Regions from separate parts of the Homo sapiens genome. Here region 1 is linked to region 2. The links come from fine-mapping of genetic effects on gene expression. Tissue or cell type: whole blood. Region 2 holds a variant in brackets; the other region holds the start of a gene. All regions are shown on one strand. Distances are from middle to middle.

The links. PIP is the estimated chance that this variant, and not a neighbour inherited with it, causes the effect.
Region 1: it holds the start of CDKN1C, and the variant in region 2 is fine-mapped to the expression of CDKN1C in whole blood (TOPMed, PIP above 0.99).

What each region holds. Positions count from the first base shown.
Region 1 is chr11:2,884,621-2,887,295 of GRCh38, forward strand. CDKN1C (cyclin dependent kinase inhibitor 1C) reads right to left here and starts at 1,155. Exons shown (of 4, transcript NM_001122630.2): 1 at 1,014-1,155; 2 at 50-846. The coding sequence starts at 836. RefSeq lists enhancers at 145-980, 981-1,816, 1,817-2,652.
Region 2 is chr11:2,835,949-2,838,623 of GRCh38, forward strand. All of the region lies in intron 15 of KCNQ1 (potassium voltage-gated channel subfamily Q member 1), which reads left to right. Among named protein-coding and RNA genes, the nearest start is that of KCNQ1-AS1, 24 kb to the right of the region's middle. RefSeq lists an enhancer at 1-755. The variant G/A (reference allele first, on the strand shown) is at 1,276.

The sequences.
Region 1 (2,675 bases), 49 kb after region 2:
GGACAAAGCGGGGCCGGGCCGGGCCGGGGCGGGGCCGTGCGGGGCTCACCGGAGATCAGAGGCCCGGACAGCTTCTTGATCGCCGCGCCGTTGGCGCTGGCGGCCGCGGTGCCGGCCGCGGGACGTCCCGAAATCCCCGAGTGCAGCTGGTCAGCGAGAGGCTCCTGGCCGCGCTGCCCCTGGTTCGCGCCCTGCTCGGCGCTCTCTTGAGGCGCCGCGTCCGGGGCCGGGGCCGGGGCGGGGGCCGGGGCCGGGGCCGGGGCCGGGGCTGGGGCCGGGGCCGCGACTGGAGCCGGGGCCGGAGCCGGAGCCGGAGCCGGGGCCGGGGCCGGGGCCAGGACCGCGACCGCGACCGGAGCCGCGACCGGAGCCGCGACCGGAGCCGGAGCCGGGGCCGGGGCTGGAGCCAGGACCGGGACTGGGGGCGGGGTGGACGCCGGGGCCGGGACCGGGACACTAGGCAGCTGCTCCGGCGCCTCCTCGAGGCCGTCGAGGGACTCAGCGGCCGGCTCGAGGGGCGGGCTGACAGCCACCGCGACCGCGACGGGCCGCGGCGCCAGCAGCAGGCGGCAGCGCCCCACCTGCACCGTCTCGCGGTAGAACGCGGGCACCGAGTCGCTGTCCACTTCGGTCCACTGCAGGCGTCCAGGGCCCCGCAGCGGCATGTCCTGCTGGAAGTCGTAATCCCAGCGGTTCTGGTCCTCGGCGTTCAGCTCGGCCAGGCGGGCCTGCAGCTCGCGGCTCAGCTCCTCGTGGTCCACCGGCCCGAAGAGGCTGCGGCAGGCGCTGGTGCGCACTAGTACTGGGAAGGTCCCACGGGCGACAAGACGCTCCATCGTGGATGTGCTGCGGAGGGACGCGTCGGACATGGCCCGGGGCTGCGCAAACGCGGGCAGCGAGAGAGGAGAGGACAGCGAGAAGAAGGGGAAAGGAGAGGAGGAGAGGGCGGAGGCCGGGCGCAAGGGAGACCCCGCGCCGCCCGACTCTGCGTGTGCGAGGGACGCGGCGGCTACCTGGCTGTCCGGTGGTGGACTCTTCTGCGTCGGGTTCGCCTGTCTCGTCCGGACGGCAGCCGCGCCCCCTCGATGCCTGCTGGCTAGCTCGCTCGCTCAGGCCTGGCCGGCACCCCTCGAGCACAGCGCACTTGGCCTGTGGAACGCCCAGCCCGCCTGCGCCCCCTTTATACGCGCGGGCCCCACCCCCGTGCGCGCGGGCCCGGCCGCGATTAGCATAATGTAGTATTTTCAGTTTCAACAACACCACGGCGATTGGCGGCCGCCCCGCTGCCCCGCCCCGCCGCGGCCCGGCCCCCGCGCACCGCCCATTGGCCGCGCGCACACCCACCGGGGGCGGGGCGGGGCGCGCGGCCGGGGCGCGCGGCTGATTGGCGGCCGCGGGGCGAGCGCGCTGTAGCAGGGGAAGGGGGCGGTGAGCGGGGCGGGGGCGGGAGTTAAAGGGCGCTGCGGGCGGTAACGTGACACCGCGACGCCCGCCCCCTCGCCCCATCCCCCCTGCAACACTCCCCCACCCCCCCGGCTCCCGCCCCCCGCCGGCTCCTTTGTCTGCAGGCGGGGGCCTCAGCCCAGCGCGGCAGGGGCCGGCTCCTGGCGGGTCCGGTGTCCGGCCAGGCCCAACTCGACCCCGGCCCGGTCCGGACCCCGGCGCCCAGCTCCGTCCCGCGCTCGCCCGTGGGCCTCCTGCGCCAGCTGACGAGGCTTGGACCCGCCGCTGCCAGCTCGGCCCTGGCCTGCGCCGGATGGGGTCTTCGGCTGCCCCCGCGCGGCCTGCTGCTGCTGGGCTGGTGTCCCTTCGAGGGCTCCGCGCGCCTGGAGCCCTCACACACCTGCTGGCCCTAAGGCCCTCGAGTCGGGAGGGGGGACAGGGGTCAGCTCCACTCTTTCCCCGAGGGACCATGTGTGGGACACCTTGAGAGACTCCCACCAGCCCCCTGGAGCTGGAGTCTGAAGCCGCTATCTGCGGAGGCCCACCCTGCCCAGTAGATGGAACAGGGGCTGAGCCCATCATGTCACTGTCGGGGGTCCCAGCCCTTCTCAGCCTTGGGCCAGACCACTCCAGCCCCGGGATCTGCCTGTCCAGGCTGGCTGGAAGCTGTTGTACTGGGTAAAAGTGAAAGATCTGCCCGAGGTCATAGGGGAAGGGGCTGTGAAGGACCATGCCCCTCCCCCGCCTGCAGCCCTTCCTGGTACAGACCTCGGTCGTGCGCGCACGCACACACACACACACACACACACGCACGCACACACACGGTGCTTCACCCCAGCCAGGCCAGACCAAAAGAGACCATTATTTCCTGCTGCCTCCCTTTTGGCCCACCTACCATGAGGCAGGGAGCCCCCTCCTCAAACCAGGAGCCTCCCAGATCGGGATGGGGACTGTCAGACACCTGTTGGAGGGTCCAGCAGCCCATGAGATCTAAGCCCCTATCTCAGGTGAGCCTGTGAGCCAGCAGAGAGACCTCTGGGAGGGAGGGAAGGTGCGGTCCCCTGAACCCCAACCAGCCTGCCTTTGAGTCCCAAGACACCCCCACCCCCATGGAATGCTGTGGCAGTGTGCAGCTGCAGCTGGGGGAGCAGGGCGGGTCTTCTGGGTCTCAGGGAAGCGAGATCTGAAGTGAGGGGGGTGAACTGGATGGGACAGGGCGTTAACCCAGGAGA
Region 2 (2,675 bases):
CCGGTCAGTGGTCCCAGGGGTCGGGGACAGGTGGGAATCGAAGTCATAGGAGGCGGGGCAAAGGCCACGGGGAAAGGGACAGAGCTGCTCCCAAGGACGCACCACCATGGGGTGCCCCGTGGCGTGGCGGGGGTGGGGGTCAGGACCTTTAGCAGAAGGTAAAGATGAGACCAAGAGGCAGATGGGTGGAAGAGTTGAAAGCAGCCAAGTGTCACCAAGGCATTTCTGAGGGAGAGGGACACGACTAGTGGCTCAAATCTTTAGAAATGAGGGGATGGGTCTGGTAGAGCACCCCAGATTCAAGGCGGGTGGCTTGGGGAAAGCAGGGAGAAGGGTCTGGAAACTGCTGCTGAGCAGGAGCCCCCACACCCACAGAGCAGGTGCAGGGAGGCCCATCTGTCCATCCGTCTGTCTGTGGGGAGGCATGGTGACGTTTCAGGCCGGAGGTAGAAGTTTTCACCCAGGAGGTAGAGGGTGAGGCCGGACTGCACTCCAAGGGGAGGAGGTGGGAGAGCACAGCCTGGCTGCTGCCACCAAGCTCCCCAGAAGAGGGGACCCCTCCCCCCGAACACCAGCACATGTAGGCAGAAAGACTTGGCCTGTGGAGCCCTCAGCCTCCACGCCCACCAGCAGGGACTGGGTGGTGATGTCAGCAATCCCCACAGAAAGGAGGGCTGCACAGCCGTCCCAGGAGCCAGCACTGTCCCCGTGATTCTACGTGCAGCCTCCACAAGTGTGTCGCATGGAAACAAGCAGTGGAGAGCCACATGTGTGTCACATCACGCCTCGCCTCACTCGTGCTAAACCTCGCTGACCAGGCAGAACCAGGCACGAGCTGCGTATCAAAGTTGCTGGAAGGAGAAACATCAGATCCCTAAGCTGGTTACCTGGCAGGCAGGGGCCCTAGAGGGAAATGGGGCAGGTGAAATGGAGATGTGTCTTTGAAATGTCTTTATTTGGCGGGAGAACGTCTTCATAGGGTACTTATACCATGAAAAACCCTGTACACAGACTAATTTTGAAGCAAACATGTGAGGCGTTCACAGAAAGGGTTCAGGAAGACAAGCACCCCAGCCGCAGAGAGCCCGTGGGCTGGGGGCACGGGGCATGGCAGCCCTCTCCTGGGGATGGGCAGGATGGGGCACGTAGGGCGGAGGAAGAGGCTCACATGGTGTGCGTGTTTGGGAGCACCCTGGGCAGCCTCTCGAGTGTCCAGAGAGAGGACACCGTCTTGAGCCAGCAGGGACAGCCAAGAGCGCCCGGGGAGAGGCCTGG[G/A]TGGAGACAGAACACAGCAGGCTGTGGGCGTGGCCAATGTTGAGGGACGGAGGTGGCCAGAGGCCTCTCAGTGGTGCCCAGGGAGCTGGGGACGAGGGGCCTCATCCTTCCCCTGAGCCCCTCCCTTCAGGCCCAGGGAGTGGCCTGGGGCCCAGGAGAGCCCGCTCCGCGCTCACAGCCTCCGTTCCCAGACACGCCCGGGCCTGAGCCCCCAGGCTGCACTGTGCCACAGAACAGACTCCCCGGCCCCTCCCTGCTCGAGAGGTGACCAAGGCCCAGGGTCTCCCAGCGAGCAAGAGGCCATTGAACTGTTGTTGGCTGTGCAGTGCCCTGCCCTCGGGGAGGCGGCCTCTAAGAAGCACACACCACCAGCAGGAACCGGGCAGACAGAGGTGGGGGATGGAAAGCAGGGGAAGTGGCCACAGCCAAACCAGGAGGGGGAAGGGAGGGGGCCTCACCAAGGAGACCCTCACCTGGGGCCTGGAGAATGAGAAGGGTCTGGAGGCTAAGGAGAGGGGTGGATGCTCCAGGAGGCAGGGCCAGCCCATGTGAGGGTCCTGAGGTAGGAACCAGAGGAAACCGGCTCTGGGGCGAGAAGGGCGGCGCCCAGGGGGCCACAGGGGCCGGCGGCGAGGGACCCTCAGCCGAGGCTGGTATCTCGAGAACAGCAGGGATGCCTCAAAGGTTCTCGCCCAGCAAGTGGACATTGTGGTGTGGGAGATCAGCAGGTGCCGGTGCTTTCTCTGTCTGCAGGAAGGAGAGGGGGTCATGGGCCCCAGAGGCCTCTGTCTTAGAGAAAAATGGTGGCAACGTGGGACAGACTGAGGAAGCCAGCCCAGAAACGTCCCGTCCCAAATTCAGGAATATTTAGGGTATACCTGCTGCACGCCAAGGGCAGTTTCAGGAAGGGGACCTACTTCTGAGAAGCAAACACCACCAGTAGGGACCAGGCAGACAGAGGTGGGGATGGAAGGAAGCCAGACTGACCTCACGTGGCTCACAGCCACTGGCAGGGTCGGGGGACAGGTGCCAAACTATCCACATGCCCGTCAGGCACCTGGAGGAGTGTGAAACGGCATGCAGAAAGAAGGAAGCAGGCTTGGGGCTGGGGGCCAGGGACCGGCGCGCCGGGAAGCAGGCTGCAGAGTGAGGCCAGGGATGGGGGCTGGGCCAGACCACAGGGTTGTGAGCGGACTCTGGCATTGATCCGGAGCCACTGAGGGTTAGAGCCTATGACTGACAGGGGTCTGACTTCCAGTGGTATGGGGCCACCCTGCTGGGCTGGGGAAGGGAGGCGAGAGGAAGTATCTAAGGTCTGCTTGTGGACTTCCGGGGACAGCGAGGGGTATTGCTGGGGTCCTAGGGGCTGGTGCGCTCAGAGGTTCCAGATGGCCCAGCAA